2 separate regions of the Homo sapiens genome follow, and region 1 is linked to region 2. The links come from fine-mapping of genetic effects on gene expression. A gene starts in region 2. The other region holds a variant in brackets. All regions are shown on one strand. Distances are between the middles of the regions.

Region 1 (5,374 bases), 94 kb after region 2:
CAAAATGTGAGAAGGACATGAGATTTGGGAGGGGCCAGGGCGGAATACTATGGTTTGGCTCTGTATCTCCACCCAAATCTCATATTGAATTATAATTTCCAATGTTGGGGGAGAAACACGGTTGAATCTTAGGGGCGGATTTCCCCCAGGCTGTTCTCACGATAGTGAGTTCTCATGAAATCTGATGATTTAAAAGTGTGTAGCACTTCCTCCCTCGCTCTCTCTCTCTCCTGCCATGTAAGATGTGCCTTACTTCCCCTTTGCCTTCTGCCATGATTGTAAGTTTCCTAAGGCTTCCCCAACCACGTGGAACTGTGAGTCAATTGAACTCTCTTCTTTACAATTACCCAGTCTCAGGTACTCTTTGTTTTGTTTTGTTTTGTTTTGGCAGAGTCTCACTCTGTTGCCCAGGCTAAAGTGCAGTGGTGCAATCTTGGCTCACTGTAACTCTTCTTCCCAGGTTCAAGTGATTCTTGTGCCTCAGCCACCTGAGTAGCTGGGATTACAGCCATGTGTTGGGAACTGGTCCCCAAATCTGGCCATAAACTGACCCCAAAACTGGCCATAAACAAAATCTCTGCAGCACTGTGACATGTTCGTGATGGCCATGATACCCACACTGAAGGTTGTGGATTTACTGGAATGAAGGCAAGGAACACCTAGCCCACACAGGGCAGAAAACTGCTTAAAGGTGTTCCTAAACCACAAGCAATAGCATGAGCGATCCGTGCCTTAAGGACATGTTGCTGCTGCAGATAACTAGCCAGAGCCCATTCCTTTGTTTCGGCCCATCCCTTTGTTTCCTGTAAGGAATACTTTTAGTTAATCTATAATCTATAGAAATAATGCTTATCACTGGCTTGCTGTCAATAAATATGTGGGTCAAACTCTGTTTGGGGCTCTCAGCTCTGCAGGCTGTTGAGTCCCCTGATTTCCCACTCCACACTACATATTTCTGTGTGTGTGTCTTTAATTCCTCCAGCACGGCTGGGTTAGGGTCTCCACGACGGAGCTGGTCTCAGCAAGTGGGGCTCGAACCCAGATCGAAGGGTTGCCGGAGCAATGGTTGGAGAATGTGGAACTAAGCTGGAGGACACCCAAGTACTCTTAAGCAATCCCTGTAGTGAGTAAGAAGGGGAGCTCAGAAGCATCAGGGTAACAATGGGACAAGTGTGGGCTCTGGTTCGTCCCACCTTGGAACCTTTTCACACTGATGATGAGGAGGAAGGAGAGTATAACAAAGTAACAGAAAAGGTAACAGAGCAGGTTTGTTTGCCAGCTAAAGCTAAAGAGGCAAAGGAGGAAGAGTTCATCCCTACCTTTCTGCACTCCCTCCTTATTTTGAAGAAAAAGAGCAGCCTGACCCTCCAGATCTTTCTTTTACGGAGGACACTGGGCGAAAAGTAGTTGCCCCAGTGACTGTTCGAGCAGCTCTTCGAGTGACTGCTGTCAGTTCTATTCAGGCAGGAATCCAGCAAGCTAGAAGAGAGGGTGATATAGGCCGGAACTGGTGGCTCACACCTGTAATCCCAGCACTTTGGGAGGCTGAGGTGGGCGGATCACGAGGTCAGGAGATCGAGACCATCCTGGCTAACACAGTGAAACCCCGTCTCTACTAAAAATACAAAAAAAATTAGCCGGGCATGGTGGCGGGCTCCTGTAGTCCCAGCTACTGGGGAGGCTGAGGCAGGAGAACGGCATGAACCTGGGAGGCAGAGCTTGCAGTGAGCAGAGATCGTGCCACTGCACTCCAGCCTGTGTGACAGAGTGAGACCCGTTTCAAAAAAAAAAAAAAAGAAAGAAAAGGAGAGGGTGATATAGAGGCTTGGCAGTTCCCTGTTAGGATATACCCCCCAGATCAACAGAGAAATATTATAGCTATATTTGAGGCTTTTCTCTTTAAATTACTTAAAGAGTTTAAACAGGCTATCAGTATGAACCAGGTATATGCCTGAAGTGTAAAAAAGGAAAACATTGGGCCAATCAGCATCATTCTAAATTTGATAAGGATGGAAACCCAATTTCGGGAAATGCCATGAGGGGCCCGTTCAGGGCCCGTCCCAGGCCCGTTCCAAACCGGGGCATTTCCGGCTCAGGCCATTCCCTCACCCCTATACAATGTCTGTCCCCTGCCACAGCCGGTAGTGCCGCAGTAGATTTATGCTGCACAAAAGCTGTGGAGCCTTCTGCCTGGGGAACCTCTGCAAAAAAGTTCCAACAGGGGTCTGTGGACCCTTGCCAGCTGGGACAATAGGATTACTTCTAGACAGGTCTAGTTTAAATTTAAAAGGAGTGCAAGTACAAACAGGAGTCACTGATTCACATTACAATGGGGAAATTCACGTTGTTATATCTACTTCTGTTCCCTGGAAAGCAGAGCCAGGACAGCATATAACACAACTCCTGATTGTGCCATATGTAGAAATGGGGAAAAGTGAAATTAAATGAACAGGAGGATTTGGAAGCACAAATAAACAAGGCAAAGCAGTTTATTGGGTGAATCAAATTACTGATAAACATCCTACCTGTGAAATAACTATTCAGGGAAAGAAATTTAAAGGTTTGGTAGATACAGGAGTGGACGTTTCAATCATTTATCTACAGCACTGGCCGTCCACGTGGCCAATTCAACCCGCTCAATTTAACATAGTTGGAGTTGGTAAAGCCCCTGAAGTATATTAAAGTAGTTATATTTTGCATTGTGAAGGGCCCAATGGACAACCTGGACTATTCAACCAATTATAACTTCTGTACCTATAAATTTATTACAACAATGGGGAGCACAAGTTCTAATTCCAGAACAATTATACAGCCCTCAAAGTCAACATATGATGCATAAAATGGGGTATGTTCCTGGTACGGGACTAGGAAAAAATTTGCAAAGTTCGAAGGAACCGCTTCAAG[C/T]GGAAAGACAAATTTCCCACCAAGGTTTAAGATTATTATTTTTGATGGCGGCCATTTTTAAGCCTCCAGAACCTATACCTTTAAAATGGTTAATGAATAAGCCAATTTGGATAGAACAATGGCCACTGAGTAAAGAGAAACTGGAGGCTTTAGAGGACTTAGTTACTGAACAATTAGAAAAAGAACACATAGCTCCAACATTTTCCCCTTGGAATTCTCCAGTTTTCATAATTAAGAAAAAATCAGGTAAATGGAGAATGTTAACTGACTTAAGGGCCATTAATTCAATTATACAACCTATGGGGACATTACAGCCAGGACTGCCTTCTCCTGCTATGATTCCAAAAAACTGGTCTTTAATAGTCATAGATTTAAAAGACTGTTTCTTTACTATCCCCTTAGCTAAGCAAGACTGAATGGTTTGCATTTACAATTCTTGCAGTAAACAACCTGCAGCCTGCTAAGCATTTTCATTAGAAAGTGTTGCCTCAAGGCATGTTGAACAGTCCAACAATTTGCCAGACTTATGTAAGACAAGCAATTGAACCGACTCGTAAAAAATTTCCACAGTGTTACATTACTCATTGTATAGAAGATATAATTTGTGCTGCCCCCACTCGAGAAATATTACTCCAATGTTATGATCACTTGCAAAACTTGATTTTTCCTGCCAGTTTAATTATAGCCCCTGACAAATTTCAGACTACTACTCCTTACTCCTACTTGGGGACCTTAGTAAATGACACTACAATTGTGCCACAGAAAGTAACCATACGTAGAGATCAATTGAAAACATTAAATGACTTTCAAAAATGACTAAAGACCATTAATTGGACACAACCTGCTCTAGGCATTCCTACCTATGCCATGAGTAATCTATTTTCTATCCTTAGAGGAGATCTTAGTCTCACTAGCCCTCAACAATTAACAAAGGAGGCTGAGGCAGAGTTACAGCTGATTAAAAAGCAAGTCCATAAGGCCTACCCGGAAAAATCTCACTGCCTCTCCCCAGACTATTACTTGTTAGATGGAACTCTCCCCCACTTAATGGGTTCCACCTGAACCCCCTCACTGCTATTATGTGGACCTGGAAAGTTGGGTATCTATACTTCTAGTGCACTAATGATTCTATCTTTGGCACCCAGTGTTGTGTTAATGACACAAAAGCCAAGTTTCCTGCAATGCTCTGATCCAGCCTTAGTTGCCAAGTTCCCAATGCCACAGCAAAGTAAATGGGATAGAACTTGTAAGCAATGAGACCATCTATGGTTCCTTCCCCTGGATCAGAACATACAGGAGAAAAAAAAAAAGGAACACATGGGAGAAAAACAACTATTTAGTCTGGGAAGGTGGGAGTACCTCCTCCCCTTTTGGAAAACAAAGATTGTTCAACCACCCCAATTAGAACAGGGAAAAATATCTCTATAGACACAACTTGGCAGCAAAGGGTAGGCATCGCACCCCGTAGGGACCCTGTTTGTGCTCCAACTGGGCTTGTTTTTGTTTGTGGCCATGAGTGGGAAGAAGTCATGCCCTGTAACCACTCCTGACTCCCTGGGGAGTCACCTGTTCTTTTAAGAATAGCTTTCCCTTGTATATCAAAAACATGAAACAGAGGTGACTGTATGTTGGCCACCCTTTCCCCTCCAGGAGTCACACAGTCTATAACCCCGTAAGACCCAAGAACACCAGAAATAAATGAGCAATAGTGTTACTGGTTGAGGGTAGTTGTCCAGGTTCTTGGCGTTTTGAACAAATAATCAGACAAAACACACAAAGCAAGGCAGTAAAAGCAGAAACTTATTTTAAGTAAAAGCACACCCCATAGGGTAGGAGTGGGCTCAAGCAAGTGGCTCAAGAGCATCAGTTACAGAATTTTCTGGGGTTTAAATACCCTCTAGAGACCAGGCGTGGTGGCTCACACCTGTAATCTCAGCACTTTGGGAGGCCAAGGCGAGTGGATCACCTGAGGTCAGGAGTTCCAGACAAGCCTGACCAACATGGTAAAACCCCATCTCTACTAAAAATACAAAATTAGCTGGGTGTGGTGGTGCATGCCTGTAATCCCAGCTACTCGGGAGGCTGAGGCAGGAGAACTGCTTGAACCTGGGATGCAGAGGTTGCAGTGGGCCAAGATCACACCACTGAACTCCAGCCTGGGCAACAAGAGCAAACCTCCGTCTCAAAAACAAAATAACACAAAACAAAAAACTACAAGTTTGGAAAACATATTGGAGGGAATAATTGAGGAAAACTTCCCTGGCCTTGCTAGAGATCTAGACATCCAAATACAATAAGCTCAAGGAATACCTGGGAAATTCATCGCATGAAGACTATCACCTAGGCACATAGTCATCAGGTTATCTAAAGTCAAGACAAAGGAAAGAATCTTAAGAGCTGTGAGGCAATAGCATCAGGTAAACTATAAAGGAAAACCTATCAGATTAACAGCAGATTTCTCAGCAGAAAC
Region 2 (5,374 bases):
ATTCCTCATTGGTTCCCCACTGGCAATGCTAGCTCTCTCCATGTCACCCTTATTTAAGCCCTTAGAACTTTATTTCTAACATTCATATTTGATCTTGTCATTCCTGCCTCTGCAATAAAGCCCTTCAGTATCTCTCCCAACTCCTTAGTAGTCATAGGCGTTTCATCACCAAACCCTGACCAGCTCTCCTCAGCTGTCTCCGTTGCCTCCCACACTTCTCAATCACATTGGTCATTTTGCCCCTCAGTTCTTTTGCACATGCCAATTCTCTCTTTACCTCCCACTCATTCTTCAAAATTCAGCTCACACCACTTCTGTGAAGCCTGAAGACAAGCTACATATCCTGACATTTATCTGCTTCCTTGACTGTGACCCCAGTCTCTAACTCTTTCAGTGAGTATGGAACCTAGAACAGAGTCTTCTATTTTTTTTTTTGAGACAGAGTCTTGCTCTGTTGCCCAGGCTGGAGTGCAATGGCGCAATCTCAGCTCACTGCAACCTCCGCCTCCCAGGTTCAAGTGATTCTCCTTCCTCAGCCTCCCGAGTAGCTGGGATTACAGGCATGCGCCACCACACCCGGCTGATTTTTGTATTTTGAGTAGAGACGGGGTTTTACCATGCTAGTGGTCTCAAACTCCTGACCTCAGGTGATCCGCCCGCCTCAGCCTCCCAAAGTGCTGGGATTACAGGCGTGAGCCACCGCGTCTAGCCTAAGAGTCTTCTCAATGGGTGATATGGTTTTGTTAGTGGTGGAAGAGGTCTGAGTTACCCCAAGTTACCTGCAGCCTATCCTTATGGGTCTGTAGCAACTTTAGTCCTTGCTTCATCAGAAGAAAGAATTCGACTGTGGGGCAGAAAGCAGAAAAAGAGACCAAGGCAAGTTCCAGAGTAGGAATGGAAGTTTATTTAAAAAGGCCTTAGAACAGGAAAGAAAGGAAGGTGCGCTTGGAAGAAACCCAAGCGGGCACGTGAAGGTTAAAGAGAGAAGGTCAAGTGCCTAACCAAGATCCTAGGACTTTTACAGGCTGGCCTCTTTCCCATGATTCTTCCCTTAGAGTGGGCTTCCCGAATGCGCAGTGCTTTCCTTCCCGTTTTCCGGTGGAGGGTGCCCCCAGGAGATCATACGTCACCATTTTTGTCTCTTAACACGCATGCCCAGAAAGTTGCTTCTCCCTGAGGCCTGCATTCAATTAGCATTTTGATGTTAACATGTGTGGACCATCAGGAAATGGCCTCTCCCTGGCCCAGCCGAATTATCCTTTTTAAAGAAGCAATGAGGTAATTATGGAACTGTCACTGGTAGAGGGTCTGACTGCAAGTTGTCCAGGTTCTTGGCGTTTTGAACAAAGAATTGGACAAAACGCCCAGCAAAGCAAAGAAAGAATGAAGGAACAAAAGAAGGAAAGCAGGGATGTATTGAAAACGAAAGCACACTCCACAGTGTGGGAGCAGCCGGAGCAGCGGCTCAAGGGCCAGGAAACAGAATCTTCTTGGGTCCAAATACCCCCTAGAAGTTACCCGCCACTTCATGCTCACCTCATGTAAATGAATTCGTAGCCTGCAATCAGTCTGATTGGTTGCAGAAAGCAGCCAAGCAGAGGCTGAAGTGAAGTTACAAAGGTCGCACACCTGTGCAAACATCTGATTGGTTGCAAGAAGCAACCAATCAGAGGCTAGGGTGAAGTTACAAAGTTATACTTCTATGCAAAGTTAGACTCGGCTGCAGTCAGTCTAATTGGTTGCAGATAGCCAATTTCCCATCTGCTGGGCAGAAAAGTTGGGTGGGGGGTTTGTTACTTAGGTGTGGAAAGTTAGGGTTTTCCTTTCAATTTAGTTCCAGGAAGTTGGCATGAACCAGTCTTAGGTTCCCTGCCTCCAGTCCCTATTCTCCTGCCTCAGAACCATCACCCAACATCCCTAGTGGGTAGCAGGGGAGAACCCTCTCCTGCCCCGCTCATGCCTAACTACCTGTAACAGTTTGGCTGTGTCCCCACCCAAAATCTCATCTTGAATTGTAATTCCCATAATCCCCCTGTGTCAAGGGCGGGAACAGGTGGAGGTAATTGGATGATGGGGCTGGTTTCCCCTGCGCCCTTCTCGTGACAGTGAGTGAGTCCCACAAGATCTGATGATTTTATAAGCGTCTGGCATTTCCCTTGCCTGCACTCACTCTGTCCTGCCACCCTGCGAAAAGGATGGCTACTTCTTTGCCTTTTGCCATGATTATAAGCTTCCTGAGGCCTCGCCAACAATGCGGAACTGTGAGTCAGACCTCTTTCCTTCATAGTATTTCTTCATAGCAGTGTCAGAACGGACTAATACAGTGGGTTTCCCATAACATTTGCAGGACTGCCTGCCCCATCCCCCTCTGGCTGTAAACAGCAGGAGTCACACACAGGCATCTTCCATGTCCCCCACACATCCGGCCCTGAAGGGCAGGGGGCGCATGGGTTCTACGTTTCATCAGGGGTTCCGAACCCTGGCTATGCACTGGAGGCCAACCCCACCTCACCCCACCCCACTCCACCCCAGTGGTTCTGAGTCGGTCCAGTGTGAGGTCAGCCCTCCTTCTGTTGTTTGGTTAGTTTCCACACTAGGTTCTACTGGGAAGCCAGCGTTGAGAACCGCCGCCTCAGGCGAAGCTGGGACTCACACCCACCGGCCCTGGAGGCCCGCGGAAGGTTTCCCTGGGTTCCAGCACCCGGGAGCCGCGCGTCGCCAGGCACCACCCCGCGGGGGCGGGCGCGGGCCGCAGAAGATTGGGCCACGGCGGAAGCCTCTCCGCTCCCTTAGCGGGAAAGCTCTGCGCGTGACTCGGCTGCGCCCATCGCTGCGGGAGCCGGGGAGGGGGCGAGCACCTTAGGCCGGGCGGACCGAACCAACGCGCCGCCCGGAGGGGCGGCCTGAGGGCAACCCAGATCGGACCATCGCGCCACGCCGACAGGGGCCGGCCTTTCCAACCCGCCCGGAGGGAGGGGCCGCCGGCGCCTCTAGCCTGCAACGCGACCCCTGGAGGGCGAGACACGCCGCCGCCGCCGCCGCCGCCGGCGCGGAAGGACGAGGCTGAGGCGAGAAACGAGGTAGGAACGCCTCTCCGGAGGCGGGCAGGGTCCCACAGACCCACTGCCCCGCGTTCCAAGGTCTCCCTTAGGGGAGGGCCTGTCTTCCCACCTATGTGCCTTCAGCGCCTGCCCTTCCCTTCAGCCCTTCCCCCTCGGCTGCACCCGCCCTCTGCGTCCGCCCCGACCCCCTGGGCAGACCTCGTCCCCAGCCCTTCTGACCCTTGGCCTTCTCCTGACCCTTCAGCTCTGCGTCCACCGGACCTTCAAACACCCAGCACCCACCGTCCCTTTGGGCGCCACCCCAGATGCATCCCCAACCGTCTCCTCAAACTGCCCCCTTGGGGACACCCTCCCCCCACAAAACGACTCGCGCCCAGTAGTCACCTTGGTACCCCAAGTCCCTGTGACGGCTTTGGGGAAGCGTGGCCGCCCGGCACCCAGGCCGGCGACTGCAGCGGGGGCCTCCCTACTGCCAGTTCCCGGCCGGGTCCTCTGCTCCCTCCACCCTTTTAGCCCCTGCCTCCCTTTATTATCCGCCCGGCGCCGGCGTTGCTTCAGTCTCTGTCTCTCTGTCATCCAGTTTTACCTGGAGAAAACCTTTGGCTTGGCAGTAACCGTCCCCTACTACTGCACTCACTTGCCGCGAAGGGCACGGTGATCCTGTTGCCCACAGTTGGCTGTGGCCCTCCAGGCCGGCCCTGCGGACACGGGGAACTGTCCTGGGGGCAAGGACGGTACACTACTCATCTTTGTATCCCCGGTCCCCAGCACGGTGCCTGGCACATGGTAGTGTTGCTGGTGGAGGGTCTTCACTACCAGTTGTCCTTTGCGTTTTGAACAAGTAATTGAGCAGCGGAGGAATGAAACGCAGGAACAAGTAGATCTGAGTCAGGCAAGGATTACCACTATGTGAACAGTGTCCGTGATAAAGAACACAGGCCTTAAAAAAAAAAAAAAGGCGGAATTTACAAAGGACAAAGGGCCTGAAACCTGTTTTTATTTATTCCTAGGTGGGTGACCTGAGCAGATTTAGTTTCCTGGGGGTTTGGGTTCCACGCGGAAGCAGGTGGTATCGCTGAGGGATGAAACAATGGCTGGAAAGCTGTAGGAGTTGATAAGGTAGAAAGTAGTTACCTAATTAGTAGTGGCATTATTGTAACTGGGGCTCAAAGTATTAGCAAATAAAAGTAGTGACTGGATTTTCTTAGCCGGCTCCTTAGATATTAAGCAGTGGTGGATGGCTTAATGGAAGGAAGAGCAGATCCAAACAGTATACCTGGTATTCTGTTAGTTATGCCCGTCCTGCTGTATGGCCAGCCACTGTTTCTCTTCTGTTTTGAGCCAGGTTAGGATCCCTCTGATTTCTGTGCTGGTATTTAAGATTCCTTTTTGAAGCCACAGTTGCCTTAACTGGAGGCTGGACATGTTCTCATTCATCCATTGCTAGTTTTGATGTATCCTTTTCCGCTTTCTGTCTCCCACCCTCTTACATGTCTTTATAAAGTCTTGGATCAGGCCAGGCACAGTGGCTCAGCCTGTAATCCCGGCACTTTGGGAGGCCCAGGTGGGCGGATCACTAGAGGTCAGAAGTTCAAGATCAGCCTGGCCAACATGGTGAAACCCCATCTCTACTAAAAATACAAAAATTACCGGGCATGGTGGTGTGCACATGTAGTCCCAGCAACTCAGGAGGCTGAAGTCCCAGCAACTCAGGAGGCTGAGGCAGGAGAACCCCTTGAACCTGGGAGGCAGATGTTGCAGTGAGCTGAGATCATGCCACTGCACTCCAGCCTGGGTGACAGAGCAATGCTCTGTCTCAAAATAAAGCCTTGGATCATAGAAACCCAGTGTGGGGAGGGGCTCCTGATCTGGATGGATTAAGCAATACAATTTTTTTTTAACAGTATCTTTTTAATGGCCTTTTCTACTTTTTCCTGTCTAGGCTTCCTGTTAAGACCTCAGTTACCCCAGAACACCCTGGGTTATTTTTCTCCTCACCTCCAATACTTCAGTGTTGCCAGATAAAACGCAGAGTGCCCAGTTAAATTTGAATTTCAAATAAACAACAGGGAGTCCTGTATTTTTACTTGCTAAATCTGGCAAGTTCATGGGAGGGCTTATGTGTTCTATTTTTCTCTCTGGGCTTATCTGCAAATTTAGGATAATAACTCACCCTTTTCTTCCTGTTACTCATACACAATGACTATGCACCCTGCTAAAAGTCACTTGACTGAAGAGATGGTTCACTTCATGTTAGGGTAAGGGCAGGCTATCTAGAAATGGTCTTGATTGATCAGTGTTGAAGTTACCCA

The links. PIP is the estimated chance that this variant, and not a neighbour inherited with it, causes the effect.
Region 1: its variant is the best candidate, but not a certain one, in a credible set for the expression of RUSC2 in whole blood (INTERVAL, PIP 0.55).

Annotation. Positions count from the first base shown.
Region 1 is chr9:35,581,460-35,586,833 of GRCh38, forward strand. No RefSeq gene overlaps it. Among named protein-coding and RNA genes, the nearest start is that of CIMIP2B, 20 kb to the left of the region's middle. The variant C/T (reference allele first, on the strand shown) is at 2,905.
Region 2 is chr9:35,487,093-35,492,466 of GRCh38, forward strand. RUSC2 (RUN and SH3 domain containing 2) reads left to right here and starts at 3,019. Exons shown (of 12, transcript NM_014806.5): 1 at 3,019-3,080. LOC105376026 (a long non-coding RNA gene) reads right to left here and starts at 4,535. Exons shown (of 2, transcript XR_929580.4): 1 at 4,339-4,535; 2 at 4,027-4,164. RefSeq lists a silencer at 2,688-2,987.